Linked DNA regions of Homo sapiens: region 2 is linked to region 1. Evidence: fine-mapped expression QTL. Tissue or cell type: spleen. Region 1 holds a variant in brackets; the other region holds the start of a gene. All regions are shown on one strand. Distances are from middle to middle.

Region 1 (2,679 bases):
CTACATTGTTACCTGCTAAATGGCAAACAGGTATATGAAAAATTGTTCAACATCAGTAATCATCAGAGTAATGCAAATCTTCACCTCTTATTTGGCCCTTATCATCACCTGGGCCCCAACCCCACCCCAGCTGGCAGCATTTCACAGGGAGGGACTTTCAGAGGAGCCAGCTCTGCCTGGATTGGCCCTTGCAGAAGTTGGGCCAGTGGGGAGGGTAAGGAACACAAAACTAATGCCTCCTCAGCTCCTGCAGCTGTGATAGCCTGAGGTCTAACACTCACCAGAGGGTTGGGTTGGCAGCAAAATGCCCTCTCTCCCACCCCCTTGCCTGTGGAACCTCCCATACCAGCCTGGTCTGGAGGAAAATGAGTCCTAGTTTTCATACGGGGCTCGAGGGCAAGGGACAGTTGGGGTTTGGGGTTAGGATGAGGACTTGAGTTATGCTAACAGCTTCCAGTTTGGGTCTCAGATTCTTAGAAGCCAAGTATAAGGACATAGCCCCCAGTGCAGCAGGGAGACAAGATCACAGGGCTTGGGGTTGGGGGGCTCCTCTCAGTCCTAGGGGTTGGGGAACAAGCCCTGAGCAACTAGACCCAGACGAGTGAATTCCTGGAGAATGTGTTGCCATTGCCATGACCACCACCCGCCAGGCTTCCATTATACCAAGTCCTAGGGAGGGTGCACTATGTACACAGAATGATGTAAATACGAATGATGCTCCATGGAGTTGGCCAATTGACTGGTCTGTACCCCCAACTTTCCTTCCTACGGCACACATTGCTAATCAATCACAGTCTCTGCTCAGTCTAGAAAAGAGGCTCAGAGTCCTGCTCCACATGAGGCCTCAGACAAGCCCTGCCCATTCCTCAGAGCTGGTATATCAAATGCCAGGTATCTGCCATCCATTGCTCTGACCTGAAGCTTGTCAGAGACTATCTGGAAAAGACCACTTCATTCCTTTATTGAGAAGGGAATACACTCTGTCACAATGCAAGGCCCTGAGTCCAGCAAGATCTCCAGCTGGAGATGCAGCTGGTTGGCTGTGACTCTGTACTGGCCCTTGATGAACCCCCGGGAAGCACAGGAGCGGCACCTCCAGTAAGCCTGGATGATGCGAACAGCATTGAGCACCTGGCAATAGCGTCTGCGGATGCGCCACATGCGGGCCTGGGACTGCAGTGTGACTGCTGCCCACTCCTTCCGGGAGAAGGCCTCTAGCGCTGCCTGC[C/T]GCCTCTTCTTCAGAATCTTGGACAGTATCAGCCGCCACCAGCACTGAATGATGCAGGCACTGAGGGCTGCGTGCAACAGTGCCCGACGCACCAGGGTGCCCCGCCACCAGGCCTGGATCTTGGTGGCTACCGTATCTTTGTCAGAGAGCTTCTTTTGGTTTTCTGGGGGCTTTCAAGAAAAAAAGAGGGACCTTCAGAGAATGCTCCCCACTGGCTTCAGCTCTGGGGTGTGCCAGGAAAGGCCCTGATTCCCTATCAGCAACTGTCTCTTTTTCTGGAATTCAGGAGCACTGGGCAGGGCACTGGCTGGAACCAGAAGATCAGGTAGATGTCCTGCCTCTGCCATCCTCTGGTTGATAGCCACAAGCACAACAACTTGCCCCTGGGTCTCAGTGTCCTCCCCATCTTGGGGCACACCTGCCCTGGCTACCTCACCCAGTTTTCCATGGACCTTGTTGACCAGCAAGAACACTGTGATATAGGGTCAAAGGGTTACCATGTTCCACCCAGGCCTGATCCTTTCTTTCAGACCCCTTCCACCTACTGGAGAAGTCACATCCTTTGCCGGCCCTGCCTTCTCATCCCTGACAACCGTTCATAGCCACAGCCTGTTCTCTCCCTCTGTCATGTCTGAAGACTAAACCCTGATTTTTTCTATGTTGCCCAAATTCCTATCTAAGGGGTCTGGGGAGTCATGCCCCACAAATCATAACTTCTCATCAGATGGGTTTTATTTAACCCTATATATTGTGACTGATTTTCAAACCTGACCCTGGCATAACATTACCAGACAAGGAAGAAAAATATTTTATCCCAAAACATGTTTCTCTGCCATATTTTGAAATGGCCCTGCAAAGCTGTTCTTTGTGGAGGAAAATTTGCATCTGAGTCTCTATTAACATAGCTAGATCTTTTTCTTCCAGACCCTCTCAATCCTAAAGAGATTAACTAACATCTGAATAGGAAACATTTGTCCTCTGTTGTCTCTAAGGGGAGACACTACAAGACTTCAAAAGAACTTTGGTCTCCACAATCTTTTATCTTAACCCAAATGTTCCCTTTCTATGAATCTCAGGTCTTTAGACAAACTCAACCAATTGTCAGTCAAAAGATGTATAAATTCACCTGTAGCCTGGAAACACTGCCCTCTCCCCAGCCACCACTACGAGTTTTCCCACCTTTCTGGACCAAACCAATGTATTTCTTAAATGTATTTGATTGATGTCCCATACCTCTCTAATTTGTATGAAACCAAGCTGTGCCTGGACCACCTTGGGCACATGTTCTCAGGACTTCCTGAGGGCTGTGTCATGGACCATGGTCACTCATACTTGGCTCAGAATAAATCTCTTCAAATATTTTGCAGAGTTCAACTCTTTTTTCTTTCCGTCAACATGTCATAGTATTAAAAGTTCCTCCACCCCAAAGTTCAAACTTACATCTCTTCCCT
Region 2 (2,679 bases), 79 kb after region 1:
GGGCAACAAGAGAAAAACTCCATCTCAAAAAAACAAAAAACAGAAAAATTATCAGTGGGGGTGCCTGCTGTAAAACCTCAATATGTGGTGGGGCTCCATTACAATTACTGTTCTTATTCTCATCGTTATTATCCTTTTCTATAAATGGGGATAATTCAATAGTACTAGCTCATAGGTGGTTGATAGGATTAAATAAGGCCATGCATGTACCATGCCTAGCACGTAGTAAGGGCTCAGTGCTCAATCAACGGTAAGTTACAGGTCATGAGTTGTCAATGCAGGCCAGAGGGAGCCCAAATTGGGGTAAAAAGCCCATTTTATTTTATTTTATTCTATTTATTTATTTTGGGACAGAGTTTCACTCTTGTTGCCCAGAATGGAGTGCAGTGGCATGATCTCGGCTCACTGCAACCTCCACCTCCTGGGTTCAAGCGATTCTCCTGCCTCAGCCTCCCGAGTAGCTGGGTTTACAGGCGTGCGTCACCATGCCTGGCTAATTTTTTTTTTTTTTTTTTTGAGACGGAGTCTCGCTCTGTCGCCCAGGCTGGAGTGCAATGGCACATCTCCGCTCACTGCAAGCTCCGCCTCCCGGGTTCACGCCATTCTCCTGCCTCAGCCTCCCGGGTAGCTGGGACTACAGGCACGCGCCACCACGCCCGGCTAATTTTTTGTTTTTTTTTTTTTAGTACAGACGGGGTTTCGCCGTGTTAGCCAGGGTGGTCTCGATCTCCTGACCTCGTGATCCGCCCGCCTCAGCCTCCCAAAGTGCTGGGATTACAGGCGTGAGCCACCGTGCACGGCCTAATTTTTATATTTTTAGTAGAAACGGGGTTTCATCATGTTGGCCGAGCTGGTCCGGAACTCCTGACCTCAAGTGATCCACCCACCTTGGCCTCCCAAAGTGCTGGGATTACAGGCGTGAGCCACCGCGCCGGAACTAAAAGCCCATTTTCTTCGGTTTTTTTTTTTTTCTTTTTTTTTTTTTTAAGAGAAGATGTCTCGCTCTGTCGTCCAGGCTGGAGTGCAGTGGCGCAATCATGGATCACTGCAGCCTTGACCTTCCTGGGCTCAAGTGATCCTCCCGGCTCACCCCCAGTAGCTGGAACCACAGGCGCGCTTCCACACCGGAAAGCCCATTTTCTAGAGGCGGAAACCGAAGCGCCCAGTGGGAAAGGCGACCCGCCGGGGATGCGGGGTGCTCAACGCGCTGCCACCTGGGGCCCAACGCGTTGACCTCGCGGTCAGGTTGCTTCCGCGGACTACGGTTCTGGCTCGCTAGCTCTGGAAGGGAGCACCGGGAGGGAATGGTGGCAACTCCCAAGGAGGGGACCCAGGGATCCGAGAAAGGAAGACTTGGGGTAGGTGGGGTTGGATTTTGACTGGAGAGAAGAAAGGGTCAGGAGTGCAGGGCGGGTACCTGGGGAGCTGCGTGGACTCGCGCAGACGGGAAGCAGGCGCGTGCTGGCGGTGACCTGGGGCCGGAGGAGGAACGCTGGGAAGAGGCCGGGCCCCATCCAGCGGGGGCGGGGACTGGGCCGTGCTCCGGGGCGCCCTCTTGTGGCCACAAGCTCGCAGCGTCCATAGACTCCGCTAAACTCGTTCTCACAGCGGCGTCAGTTTCCCAAAGCCTCTCGGTCTCACATGCCCCAAACGCGGTGCTGAGCACGGTTTCGAACTCTTCAGCGACCTGCCCCACATGGACATGGAGCAGTCTGAGGAGGAAAGTTCCTTCGGGATCGCATCCTTGCTGCTGTCTTCCTGCTCCCCATCCCCCTTATCCCCAGCTTGAACTGCCCAGGGCAACTTGTTGGCCTGGCACGGAGTTGAGGCCCGACAGGTTTGAGTGCGAGGCTCCGCCAGTGTCCAGCCAAGTGGCCTTGATCGTTTTCCCAATGCCCCCGAGCCTGTTTCCTGCCAGTAGAGCGGGTCAGATGTTGCCAACCTCTGCAGAGTAGCAATAAGCAGTAAACGCCACGCTCTGCACAGCCTCCCAGTGCTGGGCCTGGTCGCCACGCGGAGCCTTGGGCTGGGACAGGCCAGACGTTGGTAACACATCGCCAACCAGGGCAGGCGCCATGAGTAGACGTGAACGAGCCCAGGGCCAGCCCAGGCTCTGACCGTGGGTGTGCGTCGGGGAGGGGGTGGGGAGGAGTGGGTAGGAGTCAGGAAAGTGGGTCGGCCAAGACCTGGAGCTGCTGCATAACAATATCTGGCATTTACACAACGAGGCCTCTGCTCCGGACACTGTTCTGAGGCTTGACCCGTCCTTAAGAACCTAGGACAACCCTGTGCGGTGGGTTTTATCCTTAACTCCATTATACAGGCCAGAGAACTGAGCCAGGGTGGAGATGTTCCACTGAGAAGAAGCCACATGGCTCTCCGCCGGCTCTCAAGCCAAAAACAGTTCCGAAAATCTGGGCGGGGAGCGGGCCAGAGAGCGCTGGGGCTCTGCCCCCAGCACCCCCTCCACGCAGACGACTCGGTAACTGGGTTGCAGGCCCGCGGCTGCGGAGTGCGCAGGCGCGCCGAGATGGCCGCGCTCCTGGCCGCCTAGAGCCGGAGCGGCCCGCGGAGCTGCGGAGGCAGCCATGGTCGGGGCGCTGTGCGGCTGCTGGTTCCGCCTGGGCGGGGCCCGCCCGCTCATCCCGTTGGGCCCGGTGAGTCTCCCGGGGGAGGGAG

The links. PIP is the estimated chance that this variant, and not a neighbour inherited with it, causes the effect.
Region 2: it holds the start of ABHD14B, and the variant in region 1 is fine-mapped to the expression of ABHD14B in spleen (GTEx, PIP 0.92).

Annotation. Positions count from the first base shown.
Region 1 is chr3:51,893,939-51,896,617 of GRCh38, forward strand. It overlaps IQCF1 (IQ motif containing F1), which reads right to left. Exons shown (of 4, transcript NM_152397.3): 4 at 938-1,398. The coding sequence ends at 952. Among named protein-coding and RNA genes, the nearest start is that of IQCF1, 8.1 kb to the right of the region's middle. The variant C/T (reference allele first, on the strand shown) is at 1,229.
Region 2 is chr3:51,972,548-51,975,226 of GRCh38, forward strand. ABHD14B (abhydrolase domain containing 14B) reads right to left here and starts at 1,502. Exons shown (of 4, transcript NM_001146314.2): 1 at 1,418-1,502. ABHD14A-ACY1 (ABHD14A-ACY1 readthrough) reads left to right here and starts at 2,517. Exons shown (of 17, transcript NM_001316331.2): 1 at 2,517-2,657. It overlaps ABHD14A (abhydrolase domain containing 14A), which reads left to right and starts at 2,517. Exons shown (of 5, transcript NM_015407.5): 1 at 2,517-2,657. The coding sequence starts at 2,589. RefSeq lists enhancers at 691-1,627, 1,661-1,840 and silencers at 1,071-1,220, 1,441-1,610, 2,441-2,679.